Homo sapiens: one gene and its partners. Changing the gene in region 6 together with the main gene of any one other region gives a genetic interaction. Each region holds a gene or a part of one and is shown on either strand. Other genes may lie near its edges. The genes, in order: MASTL, RPP40, OR51V1, GPN1, TMEM126B, FBXW7 and CCNL1.

Region 1 (3,500 bases), on a different chromosome or scaffold from region 6:
TATTACTAAGTTAATGATAGTTAATAAAGTTTACTATTCATTTACACATCAAAAATAAGCACTATTAGAGTTTACTGAAGACTCACTCTACTTGACTAATCTTGTAAAAATCTTGATCACCAAGCACCAATTTGCAATATTATATACAAAGCTGAGTACCCACAAATACCCACAGATAGTTGGAATTCAGAAAAAAAAATCATTATTAATGCATTATCAGTTCATCTTGTTGACAATGGACTTTAATTTCTGCTCTTTGGGGTTTGTAATTATTAATTACCATTAATGTCATTTCATCCTTATCAGCTTGGTTTTTTAATACTTATATGAAGTGATATATATTTACACTGACAATATTTTAGGTCTATAATTTTTCATTGACTAAATTTCAAGCCCTGTGCATTTTGCAGTTCAAAACAGAATCATCCAGGCCAGGTGTGGTAGCTTACACCTGTAATCCCAGCACTTTGGGAGGCCTAGGCAGGTGGATCACCTGAGGTCAGGAATTTGAGACTAGCCTGGCCAACATAGTGAAACCCCATCTCCACTTAAAAAAAATTATGCAAAAATTAGCCAGGTGTGGTGGTGTGCCCCTGTAATCCCAGCTACTTGGGAGGCTGAGGTGGGAGAATTGCTTGAACCCAGGAGGCAGAGGCTGCAGTGAGCTGAGATCGCACCACTGCACTTCAGCCTGGACGACAGCAAGACCCCATTTCAAAAAAAAAAAAAACAGAATCATCCATATACCTATTGCAAAATAGATATGTACGTAATGCAGCCTTACCCCAAAATGTGCCTGAATATGTTGCCTGTTAATTTGTCCTGTTTAAGTAGCCTGTGATATACAATCAAAATAAGTATTATAGAATAATTTATTTAAAGTTTAGACCGTTTCATTCAGAATAATGTATATAAGCTTATAATTGCTTACATTGCTTTTTAATTCTCTGTTGTTTATTTTTTCCATTTGAAAGTGGCAACAGGTAGCATAATAGTTTATGGGGTCATTTATCCTACCTTAACGGACCATAGTTAAAAGGTCAATGAATCTCAGCTTTATATAACTAAAACAAATATTTTTTTCCCTCTTAGGAAAGTGATGAAGCATTGGGCCCAACAATGATGAGTTGGAATGCAGTTGAAAAGTTATGCGCAAAATCTGCAAATGCCATTGAGACGAAAGGTTTCAATAAAAAGGATCTGGAGTTAGCTCTTTCTCCCATTCATAACAGCAGTGCCCTTCCCACCACTGGACGCTCTTGTGTAAACCTTGCTAAAAAATGCTTCTCTGGGGAAGTTTCTTGGGAAGCAGTAGAACTGGATGTAAATAATATAAATATGGACACTGACACAAGTCAGTTAGGTTTCCATCAGTCAAATCAGTGGGCTGTGGATTCTGGTGGGATATCTGAAGAGCACCTTGGGAAAAGAAGTTTAAAAAGAAATTTTGAGTTGGTTGACTCCAGTCCTTGTAAAAAAATTATACAGAATAAAAAAACTTGTGTAGAGTATAAGCATAACGAAATGACAAATTGTTATACAAATCAAAATACAGGCTTAACAGTTGAAGTGCAGGACCTTAAGCTATCAGTGCACAAAAGTCAACAAAATGACTGTGCTAATAAGGAGAACATTGTCAATTCTTTTACTGATAAACAACAAACACCAGAAAAATTACCTATACCAATGATAGCAAAAAACCTTATGTGTGAACTCGATGAAGACTGTGAAAAGAATAGTAAGAGGGACTACTTAAGTTCTAGTTTTCTATGTTCTGATGATGATAGAGCTTCTAAAAATATTTCTATGAACTCTGATTCATCTTTTCCTGGAATTTCTATAATGGAAAGTCCATTAGAAAGTCAGCCCTTAGATTCAGATAGAAGCATCAAAGAATCCTCTTTTGAAGAATCAAATATTGAAGATCCACTTATTGTAACACCAGATTGCCAAGAAAAGACCTCACCAAAAGGTGTCGAGAACCCTGCTGTACAAGAGAGTAACCAAAAAATGTTAGGTCCTCCTTTGGAGGTGCTGAAAACGTTAGCCTCTAAAAGAAATGCTGTTGCTTTTCGAAGTTTTAACAGTCATATTAATGCATCCAATAACTCAGAACCATCCAGAATGAACATGACTTCTTTAGATGCAATGGATATTTCGTGTGCCTACAGTGGTTCATATCCCATGGCTATAACCCCTACTCAAAAAAGAAGATCCTGTATGCCACATCAGGTATATTTATAACTTTCTAATACTGTTTTTTGGATTTTAGAAAAACTATGAAGACAGACATTTGCCTCTAAGCTAGACTATGCGGTATTAATCATATAGTTCTGTTCTTCTTGTTGAGAATCTGTGGGCTGTTGGAAGTTTTCACCCAGAAAAGTAAAGCTGGTAGAAATCATGTTTATTATTTTTAGCTGTAATGCCTCCTTCCATTTGTGTCGTTTTATGTACTTTCCTAAGAAAATACAATCACATATTTTCACTTGATCCCCACAGTACTATGAGTTACAAAATTAATTTTCACTTGATCCCCACAGTACTATGAGTTACAAAATTATTATTATTATTATTATTATTATTATTATTATTATTATTGAGACAGTCTCGTTCTTTTGCCCAGGCTGGAGTGCAGTAGTGTGATCTTGGCTCATTGCACACTTCACCCCCAGGTTCAAGCGATTCTCCTGCCTCAGCCTCCCAAGTAGCTGGGATTATAAGGGGCCCACCACCACACCTGGCTAATTTTTGTATTTTTAGTAGAGTCGGAATTTCACCATGTTGCCCAGGCTGATCTCAAACTCGTGACCTCAAGCAATCCGCCCACCTCGGCCTCTCAAAGTGCTAGGATTACAGGTGTGAGCCACCTCACCTGGCCAGAGATAATTTAAGTCCGCTCTACCTTACTGCCTTCCAAGGACATATTTAGATGATCTCTTCTTAAGAGAATAAAAGTTGAAAAATATGTTTCTTTTTTTTTTTTTTTTTTTTTTGAGACAAAGTCTCGCTCTGTCACCAGGCTGGAGTGCAGTGGCGCGATCTTGGCTCACTGCAACCTCCGCCTCCCGGGTTCAAGCGATTCTCCTGCTTCAGCCTCCTGAGTAGCTAGGACTACAGGCATGTGCCACCATGCCCAGCTAATTTTTGTATTTTTAGTAGAGATGGGGTTTCACCACGTTGGCCAGGATGGTCTCGATCTCTTGACCTTGTGATCTGCCTGCCTTGGCCTCCCAAAGTGCTGGGATTACGGGCATGAGCCACCATGCCCAGCGAAAAATATATATTTCAAAGCTTACTCTCTATATTCTAAACCTTTACCAACCCAAAGTTTTACTTTTTTTCTTCCTTTGGGAAAACATCATAACATAAAATGTGTAACCCCTGAATTTATGTTTCGAAACTTGAGTTTTCTACCCAAGACTTACTATTAAATGACTTAGAAGTCCCTTAACCTCAGACCTGCAATTTTTCTAAATGTCTGTAAGGGATAATGGCAC
Region 2 (3,410 bases), on a different chromosome or scaffold from region 6:
GGCTGTTGGTCAGGGAGTGAACTAGCTGGAGCTTGGTCTTCTGCAAGCTTGGTCTTCTGCATGCTTGGTCTTCTGCATGCTTGGTCTTCTGCATGCTTGTTCTTCTGCATGCTTGGTCTTCTGCATGCTTGGTCTTCTGCATGCTTGGTCTTCTGCAAGCTTTGTCTTCTGCATGCTTGGTCTTCTGCATGCTTGGTCTTCTGCATGCTTGGTCTTCTGCATGCTTGGTCTTCTGCATGCTGCAGCTTACCCTTAGCAGATGTTTGGTTTATTGAGTGAGCTGGAGCAGGGGTAGAAACTGACCTTTAATGACCCGGAAGACTGGTTATCTTGTAAAAATAATCCACTAACATCTTGCAGGTGTAATTTCTTGTTTTAAATTTTTCCTCTGTACTTTCTCTTCCAGGTTCTTGCTATGCACTAACATACAATACACATATTGATGAAGATAATACTGTTGCCCTGCTACCAAATGGTAACACTTTATTTTTTCATCTTTCTTTAATTGTTAAAAAAAAATGCATACTGTAAAAAAAAAAAAAAAAAAGTCAGCTGGGCACGGTGGCTCACGCCTGTAATCCCTGCACTTTGGGAGGCCAAAGCAGGTGTATCACCTGAGGTCAGGAGTTCGAGACCAGCCTGGCCAACATGGTGAAACCCTGCCTCTACTAAAAATACAAAAATTAGCCGGCGTGGTGGCTCATGCCTGTAGTCCCAGCTCCTTGGGAGGCTGAGGCAGGAGAATCGCTTTGAACCTGGGAGGCGGAGGTTGCAGTGAGCCAAGATTGCGCCACTGCGCTCCAGCCTGGGAGACAGAATGAGATTGTCTGAAAAAAAAAAAGAAGATATTCAAAAGAATGAGTATACCATGACTTATTTATTTCATCTTTAGTAGAAATTCAGATTATTTTAAATTTCACTATTATAAATAATATCCTTGGATGTATAATGTATAAATAATATCTGTTACAAGACATGTATACACATAAATAATATTCTTGTGATATAAATAAGATCCTTGTATGCAGTTTGTTACATTGATATCTAACTGCTCAATTTGCCTTGCTTTCTTTTAGTCAGACAACGTAAGTTCTAGTTTTGGTATCTTATGGGAGTTATTATTTGATTTATAGGGAAATTAATTTTGTCACTGGATAAAGACACTTATGAAGAAACTGGACTTCAGGGTCATCCATCTCAGTTTTCTGGCAGAAAAATTATGAAATTTAGTAAGTATCATGTGTGTTCCATCTGTTTCTAATCTTCTTGTGGCAATTTAAATTTAAATGTTTGAATTGCCTCTAATCTCTTTGTTCAAAAAAATGTGGCCTTTTAAAAAAAATCTGTCAAACTTCTGACTCGAGCTTCACAGAGGATAGGATGATGCTTTTAAGTTCATTTCTTTTCAGCTGTAGATGCATTTAATAAAGATTGTAGACTTGGACTGGTCAATTAAATATATATGTTTCGGGTTAAACCTTGGCAGGCCAAGGCGGGCGGATCATGAGGTCAAGAGATTGAGACCATTGTGACCAACATGGCGAAACCCCATCTCTGCTAAAAATGCAAAAATTAGCTGGGCGTGGTGGCGCATGCCTGTAGTCCCAGCTACTCAGGAGGCTGAGGCAGGAGAATTGCTTGAACCCGGGAGGGGGAGTTTGCAGTGAGCCAAGATCGCACCACTGCACTTCAGCCTGGCGACAGAGTGAGAGTCCATCTCAAAAAAAAAAAAAAAAAAAAAAAAAATTCCAAGTACTGAACCCAAGATAGGAGTCTACAACTTATTCTTAATAAAGAATTTCCTTTGGTTTCCCCAAGTCTTTATGATTACTAGTAGAAATTCACCCATGAGTGAAGAGATGTTTTGCTGACAGCGTCTGGCTCGAACATCAATAGCTAAGGCCGCCACATCCATAAGTAGATTAAACCTGACCTCTCAAGGTCCTCTGCCCTTGGTCTTTGACCTAGGAAACATATAAATTGAAAATGTCTGTTTTTATTAGCTCTCAAGGTTAGAAGTGCCCACCAAAGGGATCTTATTTATTTGGCAAACCAAAGGGAGTGGAAGAAGAATAAAATAATTTTACTATCCATAAAATTTCCCAAAATTCTAGTTTTTAAAAATGTAACACTTTTTCCATGGTAGAAGCTGTACGTATATGAATGAAATATATGTTCTTTTTTTCATTTTTAAAGTTGTTTCCATTGATTTGATGGAATTATCCTTAAACTTGGATTCTAAGAAGTATGAAAGAATATCTTGGTCTTTCAAAGAAAAGAAGCCATTGAAATTTGATTTTCTTTTGGCTTGGCATAAAACAGGTATGAGGAATAAATTATGTAATGATACAGTGATTTTGAAAGTAATTGTTAATTAAAGAGGAGTAATGGAGGATTGAATGGTGATTCACTCTTTAGTCAAGGAATATTCTATACGTATATATAAAAATATTATTAAGGAAACTAGCCCTTCTGACATCTCTGAAAACCATAGTTCAGGATCATGTAGGCACGCAGGCCTTTCTGCCTGCGTCTCTTTGGGTTATATGTAGATCCAGAGATCTTGAGAGTGGCTTCAGAGCAGCTAAATTTTATCTATTTCTCCCCTTTCCTCTCTCCAGCTTACCTTGAACAGCCTTGACTATAATATTTTTAAGTAGCACCAATTATATACACAATCTGCTTATTTATTATCACAGGGTACTGACTCAGGCCTACCATTAAATGTCAGATGAATTTATTCTAACTTTTAATTGATTAGGACACTAAATTTAGTTCAAAGTTTGCTATTCACCACACAGCGTAATCTGCCTAAAACGGCCATGTATGTTGCTCCTTTTAGAAGTGTATCTTTGACCCAGATAATAATGGATCAAGTCATCAGGAATTATGGTGTAGTACTCTCTTTTGGAGGATAGGAAGCATGGTGGTCTGTTTTAGAAATAGCCCCATCTGTCTGCTCCTCATGGGAAGTGTCTCGTCACTGGGTGCTCCAAGTTGCTCCCATGAGTCCTAGGTCTGGCCTTCGGTGCCTCTCCTTCCATATATGGTAGATAGAAAAGAGGGCAGAAAGGCTTATTGAAGTTTCAGTTGCGTGAAGTCTTCTATGCAGATCATCCAGACGTTGGATTCTGGATAGCTCCCTATTCCTAAAGCTCCTAACTATTTTAAGGATTTGTCAGGACTGTGAAAGTTCTGAGATTTCCTCATACTTGCAGGCTAACTAGGTAGCCTGCTACAGTCTCAGGGATGCTGGCAGAAGACACATAAGCCCTGGGTCAGAGACACAGGACTTAATTCCTCAGAGGAATGGTAGTAGCCAAAATGTATTAGTCAGGGTTCTCCAGAGAGAAAGGACCAATAGGATGGATGGATGGATGGATGGATGGATGAGAGGAGATTTATTAGGG
Region 3 (2,693 bases), on a different chromosome or scaffold from region 6:
TAAAAATAGTGAGCTAAGTTATTCAATGCTGAGAAGGAGTCAGGGCAAGAAAAACAATGGTTAGACTGCTAGAAGACGTCAGTGTAGTATAGAGAGTACATTGAGAAGAAAGTCTGTGGAACTGTGTTGTGAGGCTAATAAGACAAAGCTGAAAAGTAGGACATAAAGGGCAGCCCAAATCTGAAGTTACTTTAACATCTCGAAGTTACTCAATCAAACATGAAAGTATGGACTTTTGAACATCTGTTTACATTATTAGAGCTTTAAAAAAACTTATGATGATTCTCAGGTCTGGAACTTAAAGCAGGCAAACAATGTAAAGAAGAAGCCAATTGATTCTGCTACCATGAGGCTTTTGAAATTATAAGCTTGCTTGTTTGAGCCTGGCTTTGTGATCTGTAGAACTGCAGGTTCTAAGAAAGAAAACACAATTGGCCAATACATTGAATAAATGTATATTGAATAAATAGTTAATCAGCTCATTAACTGAATAAATAAAGGAATGGGAAGCACTGAGCTGCTATCAAAGGCTCAGTGTCTTCAATCTAATTCTCTACATCACAAAGGCACAAATGAGTTGAACATCTCAAGAGGCCAGAGCTCCAGTGAGAAATCATTTACCCAAGGTCTCATGCATAAATATTCCTGTCTGCTTATCACCAATGAAGAAAAAGTAATTGCTGGCTACGTCATCTGGAGGGGGAGAAAACAGGAGTATCTTCATTAAATAGTATTTGGAGAAAAAATATACTTGGAGACGGCACAAAATGGAAAATGACGGAAAAGTGACTATTTAATAGACTTATGATATTTAAAGCCCAAAGATTACTCTTCACTTCGAATGTTTAATGAATTGGAGAGAAGAAAATAATTTTTCAAGAACCTCGGCTCTTTACTGGTATAAAATTTTTACCACTATCCTTGGGAAAATGTCTAAGCAACGTATTTTTTTAAAACTAGCCTTCTCCTTTTACTAATCTCTTCCTTATTTGTTTTTGCTTATGGCTTCTAAGGATATGTTCACATCCAGACAGTGAAAAAATAATGACTTTTAAATGACATCAAAAGAAGACCATTTTCTCAAAGGCAATGGATACTATGTCTCAAAGAAACAGAATTTCTCAGCTGTTTTTTTTAAGTCAGTAAGTTTTAGGGTATTTCATTTACTTAGAAATTTCATTGTATTCAGGTGAAATTGAAACATTTCCTTTGAAAAAATACTCTCACATGTTTCTCAGTTCCAGAATGATTACTTCAGTAAGCCCTAGCACCAGCACGAATTCTTCCTTTCTTCTCACTGGATTTTCTGGCATGGAGCAGCAATACCCCTGGCTTTCCATCCCCTTCTCCTCAATCTATGCCATGGTGCTTTTGGGCAATTGCATGGTTCTCCATGTGATATGGACTGAGCCAAGCCTGCACCAGCCTATGTTTTACTTCCTGTCCATGCTGGCCCTCACTGACCTGTGCATGGGGCTGTCCACTGTGTACACAGTGCTGGGGATCCTGTGGGGGATCATTCGAGAGATCAGCTTGGATTCCTGCATTGCCCAGTCCTATTTCATCCATGGTCTGTCCTTCATGGAGTCCTCTGTCCTCCTCACTATGGCCTTTGACCGGTACATTGCAATTTGCAATCCACTACGTTATTCCTCCATCCTGACTAATTCCAGAATTATCAAAATTGGGCTCACTATAATAGGTAGGAGTTTTTTCTTTATTACACCCCCCATCATCTGTCTGAAATTTTTTAATTACTGTCATTTCCACATCCTTTCTCACTCTTTCTGCCTGCACCAGGATCTTCTCCGCTTAGCCTGTTCAGACATCCGATTCAATAGTTACTATGCCCTGATGCTGGTTATTTGCATACTGTTGTTGGATGCTATACTCATCCTTTTCTCCTACATCCTGATTCTTAAGTCAGTCCTGGCAGTTGCCTCTCAGGAAGAGAGGCATAAATTATTTCAGACCTGCATCTCCCACATCTGTGCTGTCCTTGTGTTCTACATCCCTATCATTAGCCTCACAATGGTGCACCGTTTTGGCAAGCACCTTTCCCCCGTGGCCCACGTTCTCATTGGCAACATCTACATCCTTTTCCCACCTTTAATGAATCCCATCATCTACAGTGTCAAGACCCAACAGATTCATACCAGAATGCTTAGACTCTTTTCTCTGAAAAGATATTGAGAGATATTGAGATGTATTGCCTAAAAAAAAGAAAGAAAAGCAGCAACAATAATAAACAAAAATCAGTGCCATAAAAAAGAAAAAATTATTAAAATTGTAGATTTACTCTGAGTCCATGACAAATGACCTTAAAAAATATTTAAATATAGTCAGAGAATCAACAAACAAGTTCCATTGTGTCAGCCTGGACACATGTAGGTCACTCTATCAGTCTGACCATATTTAAGAAAGAGGAAAAAATTGTTTATTTGCCTGAAATGTACTTTTGAGCATTTCCTTTGCTGTAAAACAAAGCTGGATTAAAAACCTAGGTTTTCAAGTTTCAAAGTAGAAAACTTGAAGTTTCTTTCATTCTCTGAGGTTTACTTAATTAACCTTCAAAATGGAGACTATAGCCAACTCACAGGAATGTTGTGATATCTGTATGGACCAGAATTGTCCAAGGGAACTTTTCTAAACTGATGGCGATGTTCTATAAAATACCATAAAATGGCTAAAGT
Region 4 (3,500 bases), on a different chromosome or scaffold from region 6:
TCACACTGACAGCCTCTCCAGATAATCTGTTAACCCATAGGATTGGCTTTGAACCTGGCTGAGAAAGGAAGCTTATTACCTACTGAAAAGTAACTTTTAAAGCATTGCTTATTAAAAATTGTGGAGTGTACAAGAAGAATAAGATAGGGACCCCAGCTTCAGAGTTTATAGTCTATTTGGGAGAGAAGGCTACACACAGAATTAAAACATATGATATATTGTAGTAAGTACCTTAAGAAAGATTGGAAGTTGGGCCTGATGATTGTGAGGCGGCAGATCAAAATGACAGATTTTGGAGGATGTAGCATTAGAGGTATGCTTTGAAGAAGGGTAAGATTTATGTAAGCAAAGGCAGAATGGGTTAATTGCCCAAGGAAAGACATAGACAAAGCAGAAAGTGATTTGGTTTGGTTTGTTAGGGAATAGATAATAAGTCCTGTTAATTGTTCAGTCCTAATTATCTTTTTTTTTTCTTTTTTCCCTTTGGAGAGAGGATCTTGCTTTGTTTTACCCAGGCCAGAGTGTAGTGACAGGATCACAGCTCACTGCAGCCTTGACCTCGTGGTCTCAAGGGATCCTCCTGCCTCAGCTTACCAAGCAGCTAAGACTATAGGCGTGTGCGGTATACCATACCCAGCTAATTTTTTATATTTTGTAGAGACTGGGGTCTCGCTATGTTCCCCAGGCCAGTCTTGAATGCTTGGCCTCAAGTGCACCTCCTGCCTCAGCCTCCCAAAGTACTGGTAGTATAGGCATGTGCCACTGCACTCAGGCCATATCTTTCTTTTTCAATTTTTTATTTTCCATGGACTTATTTCTGTGACTTTTGACTGGGTGTGCTGTTTTGTTCTTTTTTAGCCTGGCTTTTTGCCAAAGACTTCTCAAAATATAAACCACTCTTACTAAGATTTTATGACATTTAAACAAGTTAATGTACTTCATTAAAAAATATACAATGGTTTCTTTAGTGGCATTTATGATGCTTTTTGGCAGGTGGTGGGTGTCTCTGCTGTTCTGGGTACTGGATTAGATGAACTCTTTGTGCAAGTTACCAGTGCTGCCGAAGAATATGAAAGGTGAGGATAAAGGAAAATTCTATTGATGACATTCTTAATAACCTACAATTCTGATATGAAAGCAGTTTTTCCAGGAAAAGCATTACATTTTCATGATGGATGTATTATATTTGGTTTGCATATGTGTATTGAATCAGACCACACTTAGGGGTGACAAGTTCCCTTTAAATTTTGTTTTTTTTAAATAGAAGTATAAATCTTCATTGTATTGAGTGATTAAGAGCAGGGATCATCAGACTTTTCTGTAAAGAGCTAAACAGTAGGTAGCTCAGGCTTTGTGGGTCATATAGTCTCTGTTGCAACTGCTCACGTCTGCCATTGTAGGACAAAAGCGTCCTCAGACAATTTGTAAATTAATGGGCGTGGCTAGTGTTACAGAAAAACATTTATGAAAACAGGCAGTGGGCTGGATTTGGCACTAAGGTTGTTGTGAAGATTGAGAAAACGTATACAGCACTTATCACAATTGCTGACATATAGTAAGCACATTTTATAATAAATGTTATAACTATTGTCATTGTTAATACTGGAATTCAAGTAAAGAAAAGTGGAGTCAGAGCCCTGTGCACTTTCCTTAGGCCTGTGGCATGATAGCCGGCTTATTAGTGTCATGTGTCTTTGGCTTCATATTTTGCAAGATCCTAACAACCATATTTTGGTTTTCAGACATGTTATTTTGATTTTGATTCATTAGACACAAGGGTGTTATCAAAACCTTAGGATAGACTCTTTTCTGTATCCTTTCACTGTTGTTGTTCAAGTAAAGCACATAATTGTATGTTGCACGTCCTGAGCTCAACAGGCTTATCTTTTACTTATCTCACCCTTTTATCTCAAATGAATGGTGAGTTCATCAGTCATGTTCTCACCAATATTAATCTTTCCAGCCCAGCAGTCAGGATTGTGTCTCCTGGTTCCAAGGTGGGAGCGGGCACCTTGGCTTTTAATTCCATTGGGTAGACTCTGTCAGTGACTAAGATTTGTTACATCTGATGTTGAATGAAGTCAGATGTTTTATTATTGTCAGTCTTAGGAAAATAGAGATAAGGGGATGTGGAGAGTCAGTAGGATAGAGGATTAAGCAAAGGAATTTAGAAAGTGTTTCTCTTTACAGGGAGTATCGTCCTGAATATGAACGTCTGAAAAAATCACTGGTAAGAAGGGAGGCTGTTTGTATATTTTAAAAGGGCCATTAAAAAAACCCAGCTCAATCTTGATGACATAAGTGCTTTTGTTTTGGTTATTAATGTATCTTTTATTTAATTAAAAAAGTTTTTTTTGTAGCTTTATTGAGGTACAAGTGGCTAATGAAATTTCAGTGTATCTTCTAAATACTTGTTAATTTAAATTTGTAAATTTGTATGTATGTTGTCTGGGTGCGGAAAGTCTCCTTAATGTTTCTTCCCTTTCAGAGGTCAATTTAAAGCTAGTTGTAGAATTTTGTATAAGAGTGTAGTGGTGCTTCACAACTCCTTTTCTTGTTGTTGAGAAAGGGTCTCACTCTGTCACCCATGCCAGAGTGCAGTGGCACGATCGCGGCTCACTGCAGCCTCGACCTTTTGGGCTTAAGCGATCCTCCCATCTCAGCCACCCGAGTAGCTAGGACAACATGTATGTACCACATGCCTGGCTAATTTTATTTTGTAAATTTTTTGTATAGACAAGGTCTCACCGTGTTGCCCAGGCTGGTCTCAAATTCCTGAGCTCCTGCAGTCCTCCCTGCTGGGCCTCCTGTAGTGCTAGGATTACAGGCAGGTGCCACCATGCCCAGCCTTCTCTTATCCCAAATGATCGAGTGTCCTGCTTCCTTAGGCTCATTGGATCCTTTGTCTCTGAGCCTTCCTGCTATGTCTACTTCAGGTTTTTGTGTTTTTTTTCCCCCATATAATAAAGTTTATTGTATCTTTTGTTTTTTCATTTTGTAGGCTGGGGATGAATAAAGAGTAATGCTTTCTATGTAGGCATTTTGCCTAGCCAGTTTAAATGTTCCAGTTCAATTAACAGAGCAGGGGATCCACCCTGGACTGAACTCAACACTTTAGAATTGAGGGTTCTTTTGAAACCTTTTTGTGTTCCGTTTCTGAACCCTCTAAATCAGTCTGCAGAGCCCTCCAGTCTAAACTTCTGCAGTAACCCAGGCCCACGCTACTTAGTGTTTCTGTCCCTATACCAGACGTCCCTTATCTGCATCAGTTTTTATGTAGCCTCTAGTATTTGTATAATTCTTCATCTCCACTGAGAAGTCTGGCATCTAATTTGGGACTCCTTTTTGAATATGATGACATTTTTCTCTGTATATACAGGCCAACGCAGAGAGCCAACAGCAGAGAGAACAACTGGAACGCCTTCGAAAAGATATGGGTTCTGTAGCCTTGGATGCAGGGACTGCCAAAGGTATTGGAGGGTTTCTTGGTGTTAGGAACT
Region 5 (2,722 bases), on a different chromosome or scaffold from region 6:
TGTGTATACCTCTCAAATCCTCTCATAGTATGTGTTCACACTTACTCCTCCTCAATTGAGTTCCTTCTAGGTAAGGAATGTTTGTTTTCTTTCTTTTTTTTTTTTTTGATATGGAGTTCTGCTCTGTTGCCCAGGCTGGAGCACAGTGGTGAGATCTCAGCTTACTGCAACCTCCGCCTCCTGGGTTCAAGCGATTCTCCTGCCTCAGCCTCCCAAGTAACTGGGATTACAGGCATACACCATCATGCCCAGCCAATTCTTTTGTACTTTTAGTAGAGACGAGGTTTTGCCATGTTGGCCAGGCTGGTCTCAAACTCCTAACCTCAGGTGATCCGCCTTCCCTGGCCTCCCAAAGTGCTGGGATTACAGGCGAGAGCCACCATGCCCAGCCAGAATGTTTCTTATTATATTTAACACAGTGCCTGAGAAATAGCTCAATAAATGTTTGATGAATGAATGAATATATAACTGCACAGATGAGACCTTAAAGCCCAAACCCATTTCCACATACAAAGAGGAAAGATGAAACTTTTATTGTTACATTTATTGACACTGGATATTTATTATCTGTTATATACCAGGCAAAATGGACACACCATCAGGAGATAAGACCTGTATCTTACGTGTAAGATGAAACTTATATTTATTGATTGAATTATTGAATACTTTTTGAGTATTTGCTATATACCAGGCAAAAGGCACAGAACAAATTATTTGTTCACAGTTACTTTTAACTCTTTCAGCAATGCCTGAGTCCTCTTTATAGAAACTTCATTTTGCTAAGTTAGCAACCATTCATTTTTTTGGTTACTCTTCATGTATAGTTTTCTCAAGTGTCTCTTCAAATACTGCATAATGGTATAGACCATTTAATATTCCAAACATAATCTGAAAGACTAGAGGAATCGCCATTAATTTCATTTGTGTTTGACAAAGCGTCATCCAATGGATTAAAACCCTTCCTTTTGGTGGCAGTGGAACGGTATGATACCTAAAAAGAAAAAAGAGTTAATCACCTCTCCTGGATATGAATGCTATTAGAAGTTTGTTGACTTCTCCTAAATTGATAATTGCCTTTCTAGATCTATAATGTAGAGAGCAAAAAAGTTAAAAGTTAGCTATCTGAAATACCAAACTACCACATTTTGATTCAAATATATCATAGACAGCTAAAGAAGAAAGAGAGTTTATTAACCTAAAAAAAAAAAAAAAAAAGAAAAGAAAAGAAAAGAAAAAAGAAGGAAAAGGAAGAACTTACTTGGTTGCCAGGCGTCCATTTTTAGTAAAAGCCAAAGAACTGGGATAGAAAACACCACAAACTATGCCAATCAGTGAGCTTCTGAAAACACAGTTTTCCTTGCTTATATTATCTGGAAAACAAAAGTAAATTTGGTTTTCCTTTAAAACTCAAGAGCTATTAAGACAGTGTTGTACCTCACAGAGTAGTTATCTGCACTATCCTCAACCACAACTAAACCATAGAAAGAATATTAGAAATTCAAACTCTGTGGCATATAACAGGCCAAATGCAGCACATTTTAAAAAGTTTTTATTATACTTTATCACATAGAGAATTACCTCTAACGTATGTGGTTGTTGTAGAAGCAATTTTATTTTATTTTTTGGAGACGGAGTCTCACTCTGTTGCCCAGGCTAGAGTACAGTGGCACGATCTCGGCTCACTGCAACCTCTGCCTCCAGGGTTCAAGCAATTCTCATGCCTCAGCCTCCCAAGTAGCTGGGATTATAAGCTTGCACCACCATGCTCAACTGTTTTTCTATTTTTAGTAGAGACTGTGTTGGCCAGGCTGGTCTCGAACTCCTGACCTCAAGTGATCTGCCTGTCTTGGCCTCCCAAAGTGTTGGGATTATAGGCATGAGCCACCGTGCCCAGCCAGAAACAATTTTATAATGACAATACTAAACTAGCAAACCAGACCTGGATTCTAGGTTAATACATTTTTATTATCTACTATATATCAGGAACGTGCTAGGAGCTAGGAATACGGTGGTACATAAAAGAGACCTGATCTCTGACCTTCTGGCCAGTTTACAGAGATGAAAGACACGAGATAAATATTTAAATAGATAATTATCAGTGTACACAATACTTTGAAGATAAACTATATAGAGAATGTATCCAGACACCTAGTGTACAATGAGGCAATCAGAGGTCTCCCTGGGGAAAAGATACTTAAGCAGGAACCTGAAGAATGAACAAGGGATAGATGCTCTATCAATTACTAGTTGTGAAACTCAAGGTAAGGTGAGGGGCAGGAAATAACATTAAAAGCCCATAATATGACAGATATTGTGGTAGTCATTTAACCTACAGTATCTTTTAATTCTCACAACAATCCTGTGAGGTAAGTACTATTAGTCCTAACTTATAGATAAGACAACGGAGGCTCAGAGATGAAATGCCTTACTGAATGTCACAAAACTTAAGTGGCAGGAGGTAGCATACTGAAATGATGTGCGTTGTATGCCACAGCCAATTCTTTTCCCAGTATGTTGCTTATTAGCGTACTTGAACATGCCTCAGTTTGGGTTGCTTATCTACAGAAATAAAAAAATACAGTTTACCTGATTAGGAGGATTGTTGCAGGGATTAAATATGACAAGGTATATGGACTTTGTAAACTGTATAGCAATATATAAATGTAAAGAATTATTATTAGCAGTAGCAACAGTATATGTTAATAAGTAACTTTACTTAGAC
Region 6 (3,500 bases):
CTTGGATTAATAATAATTGAAATGCTAAATCATGTTTTACATCTGCTTGTAAAACCTTACTTTCTAAAATGTGTTTGGCCCTAATTTACCTAGCCTATCTGCAAGTCAGATTTTATTTAGCTGGCATGATCTAAGAAGGACGTGACATCAAGTAGTGATTTTTCATCCATTGTACCATCCCTGTCTCAAGATGTTGAAGCAGTAGCTTTGGATCTCAGCCAGATGGCTCTACCACTAACAACTATAGCACCACTTTGTTAAGGCTCAGACCTTTTATAGTGTCATTCCTCCCTTTTGCCCCCCTAGTCTTGATCATCTTCTTCAAGGTTGCTATATCAAAAGGGAGTTTTAACATCTCTTTTTTTCCTGAGGGTTCAGTTAGAGGAATAGGGGTTTAATACTTAAGGTCCAATTGCACTAACTTATTTCAGAAAGAGGTTCAATCAAAACTAAGCCTTGCGGAACAATGCAGAGTTATTGCTGATTTCTGCTACACTTTAAATTAAAAGCAAAAAAAGCTAGTTAGACAAAACATTATCTTTTTCCAAAAGGAAAAGTCATCCTTATATTCTGTAGGAAACCTTCCAGTTCACAAGTTTGACAGGTGCTTTATCTTTTCTTTACCTTCAAGATGTAAAATTTTGTGTATGATGATTACCTTTTTAAAAACGAAGTATACTGAATTTGTTAGTTTTTTTCTAGTGATTCTGAATCATGAATAACAATTATTGTCCTGTACATATAACAAGAATGGACTGGGCTCTAACCATAGAAGGAATACATGTGTGTATGCATTTATGTATATACACATGTACAGTATAGATGTGTGTATGCATTTATGTATATACACATGTACAGTATAGATGTGTGTATGCATTTATTATATAAGTGTGTATGTATAGTTTTTGATATATTGTTGATCATGAGATGATCTGCCTTCGTAAGTATGGCATGAAGAATACAAAGCTATTTGATTGCCAGGACAGTGATACCCTTCTACAAGTAAGATTTCAGTCTGAAATTTTTCTAAATGTTTTCCTTTTTGTCCATTCCTGAAACCCTTCTGCCAGAGTATTCCCAGAGCACTTTCAACAGCATTAAAAAAAGTCACTGAGTACTGCTTCACCTAAAAAGAAAATGTCAGTATTCTCCGTGTATACATGTTTTAATACAATAAATAGAAGCTCTCACTAGTTGAAGTACTTTATTTTGGAAGAGCTTTAAATTCTTGATCATTATAAAGTTAAGACACTTCTACAGATGTTACCCTAGACCATAGTTTCATTCAAGTCTTCTTTGACTTTTGAGAGTAGAGGCATAAGAAATGAAATCCCATTTTAAATGTTAACATAGGATTAGCTTTCTACAAATTTTACTCAGGATACCTTTCAAGTTTTATTTTTTGGCATTCTCATAAACAAACCCTGTGGACAGCTAGACTGAATTTTACCCATCATCCCTAAATATGCTGCATAAGCAAATATATTAATGAGAAAAAAAGATTTTTAATTCTTCCTTGCATTGCTTTATTCTTTGAAAGCATTCTGAAAACTGTCAACACTCTGAGGACAGTTTTTCCCCCCTTGTCACTAAAGGTTTGTTCTTTTGGGAGCCTTATGGCAAGCAATATATGTTAAAAATTCCATGTTGTCTTAATGTTAAAAGTCAAGGGAAGTGGTAGTCAAGAATTGCTATTTATTAAGCTCACACTGTTTGAAAGATCCTACTACAGATACATAAACAAAAGTTACAGAGAGGCCGAATGATCCACCCCAGATTACACTACGTGATGAGAGATTTTAATCCTGATTTGCCTAATAGCAAAAAACCCCTTTCTCTTTCCACATGCTATGCTGCCCCCTATGGTTGAATTTGACAAACATCACTGAACAAGATTTCCAACATAGTCAGAGACTCTGCCATGTGATGATTTTCTGATACTATGTCCCATTTGAAGTGATAAGAGCTACCCTATAGAAAGGACAGAGGGCTCAGTTAACTACTTTTCTTTGTGGCACTTAACAAAACATTATTGAAGATTTTACAGCTCAAGGCTAAAGTAATCAGGAACAAATGACGCTGTTAAAAAATTTTATAGAGGTCATACTCTCTTGAATCCATAAAACATGCTTTTAAAGCAGAGGTTGTGTGCTGGCTATTCCTCTAAATCTTGCTTCTCCAGATACAAATGTCTGTCTCTTCAGTTTTAACTCTCATTCTCAACATCCTTATCATATTTTTTTAAAAAAAGTTGTTTTCTGAAGATATGCCCAGCTCATATTGAAGAATCTTTGACATATTTTATGCAGAATATCAACTAATTTTCTACTAACATGAAAAACAAATGAGATGATTATTAGGCCAGATCTGGTATCCTGATCTTTTGATGAAGAGAAGTGTGTTTGAGCATTAATTTCTGATGCTTCCATATCTATCTTAGTGGCTTCCACCTGTTCTCTTCTCACATAACTTCCTTACCTCAAATTAGTCTATTTTTTTCCCATCTTGATTGTTAGATTCTTCCTAGTAATTAAATCGTTTTTATCCATTTGCCTCAAATAAGAAATAAATGTTTATCAAAAAATAAATATATATAAAAGATAGCCAGGTGTGGTGGCTCACACCTGTGATCCCAGCACTTTGAGAGGCTGAGGTGGGCAGATTGCTTGAGACCAGCCTGGGCAACATGGCAAAACCCTGTCTCTACAAAAAATACAAAAATTAGCTGAGTGTGATGGCATGCGCCTGTGGTTCCAGCTACTTTGGGGGCTGAGGTTGGAGGATCATTTGGGCCCAGGAGGTTGAGGCTGCAGTGATCTGGGCCACAGAGCAAGACCCTGTTTCAGAATAAATAAATAGAGGGTGGGGGGAGGTGTGGAGAAGCATCTAGTGTATTGGAGTTTAGAGGCGTAAGACCCTTTCTTGTCTATAAATTCTGAACAATAGAGGAATCAGGTAATAGGATCATTAACCAATCAGGGTATCTGGTCCGCCATTCTCCAACCACCTCCTAGGACCAGAGCTGCTGAGCAGCTTTGTAGGATAATGTGGCTAACATTGGAAATATAACAGGGCTCTAAGTTACACTCTGTTGTAGAGTTCTAGAGAATGATAGCTTCTTCAGAAAGTCCCTGGCCTAGTCTACCTGCAAGACAAGCAACTTAAGTTCAAAGTCTGTTTGGTATATACATGTCCAGAGAGCAAAAAATGCTATTTAAGGCAGTCATCTTGAATAACATCCACTAGTAAACATGGCCCAATGAATAGCCATGTCCCCTACCTTTGTGAAGGAGGAAAAATGAAACATTGACTCAGCCTAATTTAGCCCAATTTTAAACATGTGGGGAGGATAATGGAAATGGGAGAAATGGGGACAATGGGTGAGATGGGTTTTCCCCTAACATATTAGAGTGATAAGAACTTTTCACATCTGAGTTTGAATTCTGATTATACCACTTACTGTATAACCATGAGTATATAATCTCAGTGAACCTATTACT
Region 7 (3,095 bases), on a different chromosome or scaffold from region 6:
TAACTTTATTTTTAAAAATATCCTTAGCAGTAATACATCTTCCTCTTTGTGGGTGTATTTTATTTCTTGAAACAGCAACAAATCACTTGGAGCCAAGTCTAGTGGACAATTAAAGTAGGTAAAATAAATGTAATGGAGACCTTAGTGTAATTATAAAGCGATGCAACATTTTGACTCTGTAAACTGATTTCCAAAATGTTGAAAAAAATAGTAAATGTGAGTAACTTGAAAACATTCATCTGGATAGAAATTCCGGCTTTTTCATCAAAACTTCACTTCTTTGTGATCAGCTTGTATTCTATCAACCACTCAAGTTCAGGGGCCTCACATTTTCTCCTAGCCTACGTAAAAATCGTAACATTAAATGCCTAAATTATACAGAACTGTTAAAGCTCAATAGTTACTAAGTTTTGGTTCATTCAATAGGGTACCTCATTTCAGAAATAGTACTTAAATCTGACTCAAAATTACCTTATGACACCATTCAAAAGCAAATCAGGTTTTTTGGTTTAGTGCTAAAATATAACATTTAATGTCACATTGTTGGGCGACTCCCATTTACTTTTTCCATATATACAGTGAAGACTTACAATAGCTCACAATGCAGTTAAGAATTGCATTTTAATAATCTCAAACTACCATCTAATGGAGGAAAGAATAAGTTTGTCAGAAAACCAGTACAGCCATTTTGCTATTAAAATTTTCCTTTTTAATAATTTATTTAAATAAGGTATTTGAAGCAGTTTAGAAAAAACAAGATTTGTATTTTATTTCCTTGTAAAAATCTTTACACATGCAGACAAACCAGTGTTAAGAAAGTATTCACCATCATTTAAACAAATAACCACTTAAATAGAACAGTGTCTGCAATTTTATCTGTATAAAAATAAGATACATTTTTACAGAATTCACGCTCCAGTTCTTATAGCAATAAACAATACACAACTATAATAAAGTACAATTGAACCTGACCATGGTTTTTAATTAGATACTGCTAGGGCATTTTAATGTGCAAAAAAATTAACATAGTTCTTTTCAAAAGAAACTGTCCTCAGTGTTCTAGAGACCTAGAGGGTTTCAAGAAATCAAATCCTAATCAGTTTGCGTTTAATGTTTTTGATTGAGTCCATACATCACACTGTAGATAGGCAAAACCAAGAACTGATGCAGGCTCAAAGGAAGAGAAAGTCAGCGCCTGTGCCTGCCATGTCCTGAGCGACTGCCACCATGGTGCTTGCTTTTATGGGACCTCTCAAAGGAGCGAGATCGTTCACGCCTGTCCCTATGATGTCCCCTTTCATGCCTGTGTTTCTTGGCTGCATCTGAGTGATCCCGAGACTTGCTCTGAGATCGAGAACGAGATTTTTTCCTTTTATGACCATGTCTGTTTGAACTTTTTAAATCATCTCTGGTATGCTTGGCCTTAAGGTGAGGAGAACCATGATTATGATGTCTTCGAGGGCTTTCACTGTGACTGCGGGACCTGCTTCTTGATCTCGAGCTGTATGTTCCAGATCGACTCCGCCTATTATTATAGCTTAGATAATAAAAATTTGAAGTTTAGGTTCAGTTTCTATGGGGAACAGATTATTCCGGTGGTTGCTCATAACAGGTTCAAAACAAAACTACCAGCTACATAAATGACAAACCAGAACTTTTCAAAATCTCCCCACCCCTCACTGCTGTATGCCCAAGCCTATATATAACATATTAAATCTTAAGCAAATGTTCTTATGTCTTTATTCCAAGGGGAGTAATTAGCAATTTTTATAGTGTCCTAGAGCTATGCTTTTTATTAAGTATCTCCCACATGTTCAAAAGACATTGAAGAGCCACGAAGAGCTAACAATCTAATTACAGGCCTAACTAAAGAAGATTCATTGACTGGTTAATTTGATTATTGGTTATTAATAAGGGGTTAATGAAACACATTTTCTAACTGAAATTAAAAAAAAAAAAAGAAGTTTTCACATTATGAACAATACTATGGCCCTCAAGCACTTTGTGGGTAGCTCCTACACTTCTCCAAAAAACATGGGAGAAAATATAACAGAATGCCATTAAGATACTGTATGTCCAGAACATCTCCAAACTCATTTCTCATAATTTGCCTCATACTAAAAGCCTAATTCTAACCTAACTTTGAAAATAATCTATGTTCAATTTTTAAAGAAAAAGCAATAACCTTTAAAAACTCCAAATAAGACTGCTTCCCTAAGAAAACATTTACTTACTGTCTTCTTGGAGTATGTGATCTAGAACGTGATCGTGTTCTTGACCTCGATCGACTTGCACTTCTGCTATTTCTACTTCTCTTGCTGTCTTTTCTTACACTTCAAAAAATCATGACATATTAGTTACAAACTTAGTGTGTTAAAAAGTAAACACATAAAAGATTCCTCAAGCCAGTTTTCCAGCCCAAGTATACTCACCCATTGTAAGGGCTTTTGGAAGCCTGTTGTCTATCCTCAGGTTCTTTTTTGACTGTCTTCACATTAATGGAGATTGGTGATTTCTCTTCAGCTTTTACTTCTCTTGGTGATGCTTTTAAAAGATATAATAACAACATGTTAACTACTGGATTTAACAGAGGGCCAAAAGTTGTTTCTAAATGTAACTCAAAGTACCATGCTTCCGCTTCCATGTTGGTTGACTGCCATGAGAGAACATAGCAGCAGTTTCCTAACATCATTTTTCTCTATGCAACTTTCAAATGTAAAAGCTCTCTAATAAAGACACACTTTCAGTGCCCCCAAGTCATTTTAATTCTAAATACATCTTACATGGCTTGGAGGCTGGAGAAAATCCACCCAGGGTTGAAAGGGCTGGAGTTCCATCCGGATTCAATCCCTTTGCTTTTAATTTGGCTTCTTGTAAGGCTACTTTTCTTTTTTCTACTTCTTTTTCCAGTAATTCATAGTTTGGCTGTTGGAGGAAAAAAAAGTTAGTATTTCTTCCTTAGAGTAGCTTGGACTCTTAGCATGTTGGCACAAACGAGTAAATAGAGAATACCTTTTTTCTGGTATAAAGCCTAAGTGTTTCTATGCAGATTTCCTGGATTTCCTCTTCTGTAGTACCAAAAAGAAGAAACCAAT

Evidence for each region.
Region 1: changes in FBXW7 (region 6) and MASTL are lethal when combined (synthetic lethality), as found in Homo sapiens cells (one study listed by BioGRID).
Region 2: changes in FBXW7 (region 6) and RPP40 together harm fitness more than expected from each alone (negative genetic interaction), as found in Homo sapiens cells (one large-scale study listed by BioGRID).
Region 3: changes in FBXW7 (region 6) and OR51V1 are lethal when combined (synthetic lethality), as found in Homo sapiens cells (one study listed by BioGRID).
Region 4: changes in FBXW7 (region 6) and GPN1 together harm fitness more than expected from each alone (negative genetic interaction), as found in Homo sapiens cells (one large-scale study listed by BioGRID).
Region 5: changes in FBXW7 (region 6) and TMEM126B are lethal when combined (synthetic lethality), as found in Homo sapiens cells (one study listed by BioGRID).
Region 7: changes in FBXW7 (region 6) and CCNL1 are lethal when combined (synthetic lethality), as found in Homo sapiens cells (one study listed by BioGRID).

What each region holds. Positions count from the first base shown.
Region 1 is NC_000010.11:27,168,852-27,172,351, forward strand, and holds part of MASTL (serine/threonine-protein kinase greatwall), read left to right. Parts: intron 1-1,092; coding exon 1,093-2,232; intron 2,233-3,500. UniProt on the Homo sapiens protein: Serine/threonine kinase that plays a key role in M phase by acting as a regulator of mitosis entry and maintenance.
Region 2 is NC_000006.12:4,997,628-5,001,037, reverse strand, and holds part of RPP40 (ribonuclease P protein subunit p40), read left to right. Parts: intron 1-406; coding exon 407-475; intron 476-1,133; coding exon 1,134-1,229; intron 1,230-2,196; coding exon 2,197-2,322; intron 2,323-3,410. UniProt on the Homo sapiens protein: Component of ribonuclease P, a ribonucleoprotein complex that generates mature tRNA molecules by cleaving their 5'-ends. Also a component of the MRP ribonuclease complex, which cleaves pre-rRNA sequences.
Region 3 is NC_000011.10:5,199,235-5,201,927, reverse strand, and holds OR51V1 (olfactory receptor 51V1), read left to right. Parts: upstream 1-1,245; coding exon 1,246-2,193; downstream 2,194-2,693. UniProt on the Homo sapiens protein: Odorant receptor.
Region 4 is NC_000002.12:27,639,050-27,642,549, forward strand, and holds part of GPN1 (GPN-loop GTPase 1), read left to right. Parts: intron 1-993; coding exon 994-1,076; intron 1,077-2,190; coding exon 2,191-2,230; intron 2,231-2,993; exon of another isoform or gene 2,994-3,120; intron 3,121-3,379; coding exon 3,380-3,470; intron 3,471-3,500. UniProt on the Homo sapiens protein: Small GTPase required for proper nuclear import of RNA polymerase II (RNAPII). May act at an RNAP assembly step prior to nuclear import.
Region 5 is NC_000011.10:85,634,315-85,637,036, reverse strand, and holds the end of TMEM126B (complex I assembly factor TMEM126B, mitochondrial), read right to left. Parts: exon of another isoform or gene 1,532-2,722; intron 1,371-1,531; coding exon 1,259-1,370; intron 992-1,258; coding exon 808-991; 3' UTR 501-807; downstream 1-500. UniProt on the Homo sapiens protein: As part of the MCIA complex, involved in the assembly of the mitochondrial complex I. Participates in constructing the membrane arm of complex I.
Region 6 is NC_000004.12:152,407,093-152,410,592, reverse strand, and holds part of FBXW7 (F-box/WD repeat-containing protein 7), read left to right. Parts: intron 1-3,500. UniProt on the Homo sapiens protein: Substrate recognition component of a SCF (SKP1-CUL1-F-box protein) E3 ubiquitin-protein ligase complex which mediates the ubiquitination and subsequent proteasomal degradation of target proteins.
Region 7 is NC_000003.12:157,147,053-157,150,147, forward strand, and holds the end of CCNL1 (cyclin-L1), read right to left. Parts: coding exon 3,013-3,095; intron 2,926-3,012; coding exon 2,784-2,925; intron 2,545-2,783; coding exon 2,433-2,544; intron 2,334-2,432; coding exon 2,235-2,333; intron 1,538-2,234; coding exon 1,189-1,537; 3' UTR 501-1,188; downstream 1-500. UniProt on the Homo sapiens protein: Involved in pre-mRNA splicing. Functions in association with cyclin-dependent kinases (CDKs). Inhibited by the CDK-specific inhibitor CDKN1A/p21. May play a role in the regulation of RNA polymerase II (pol II).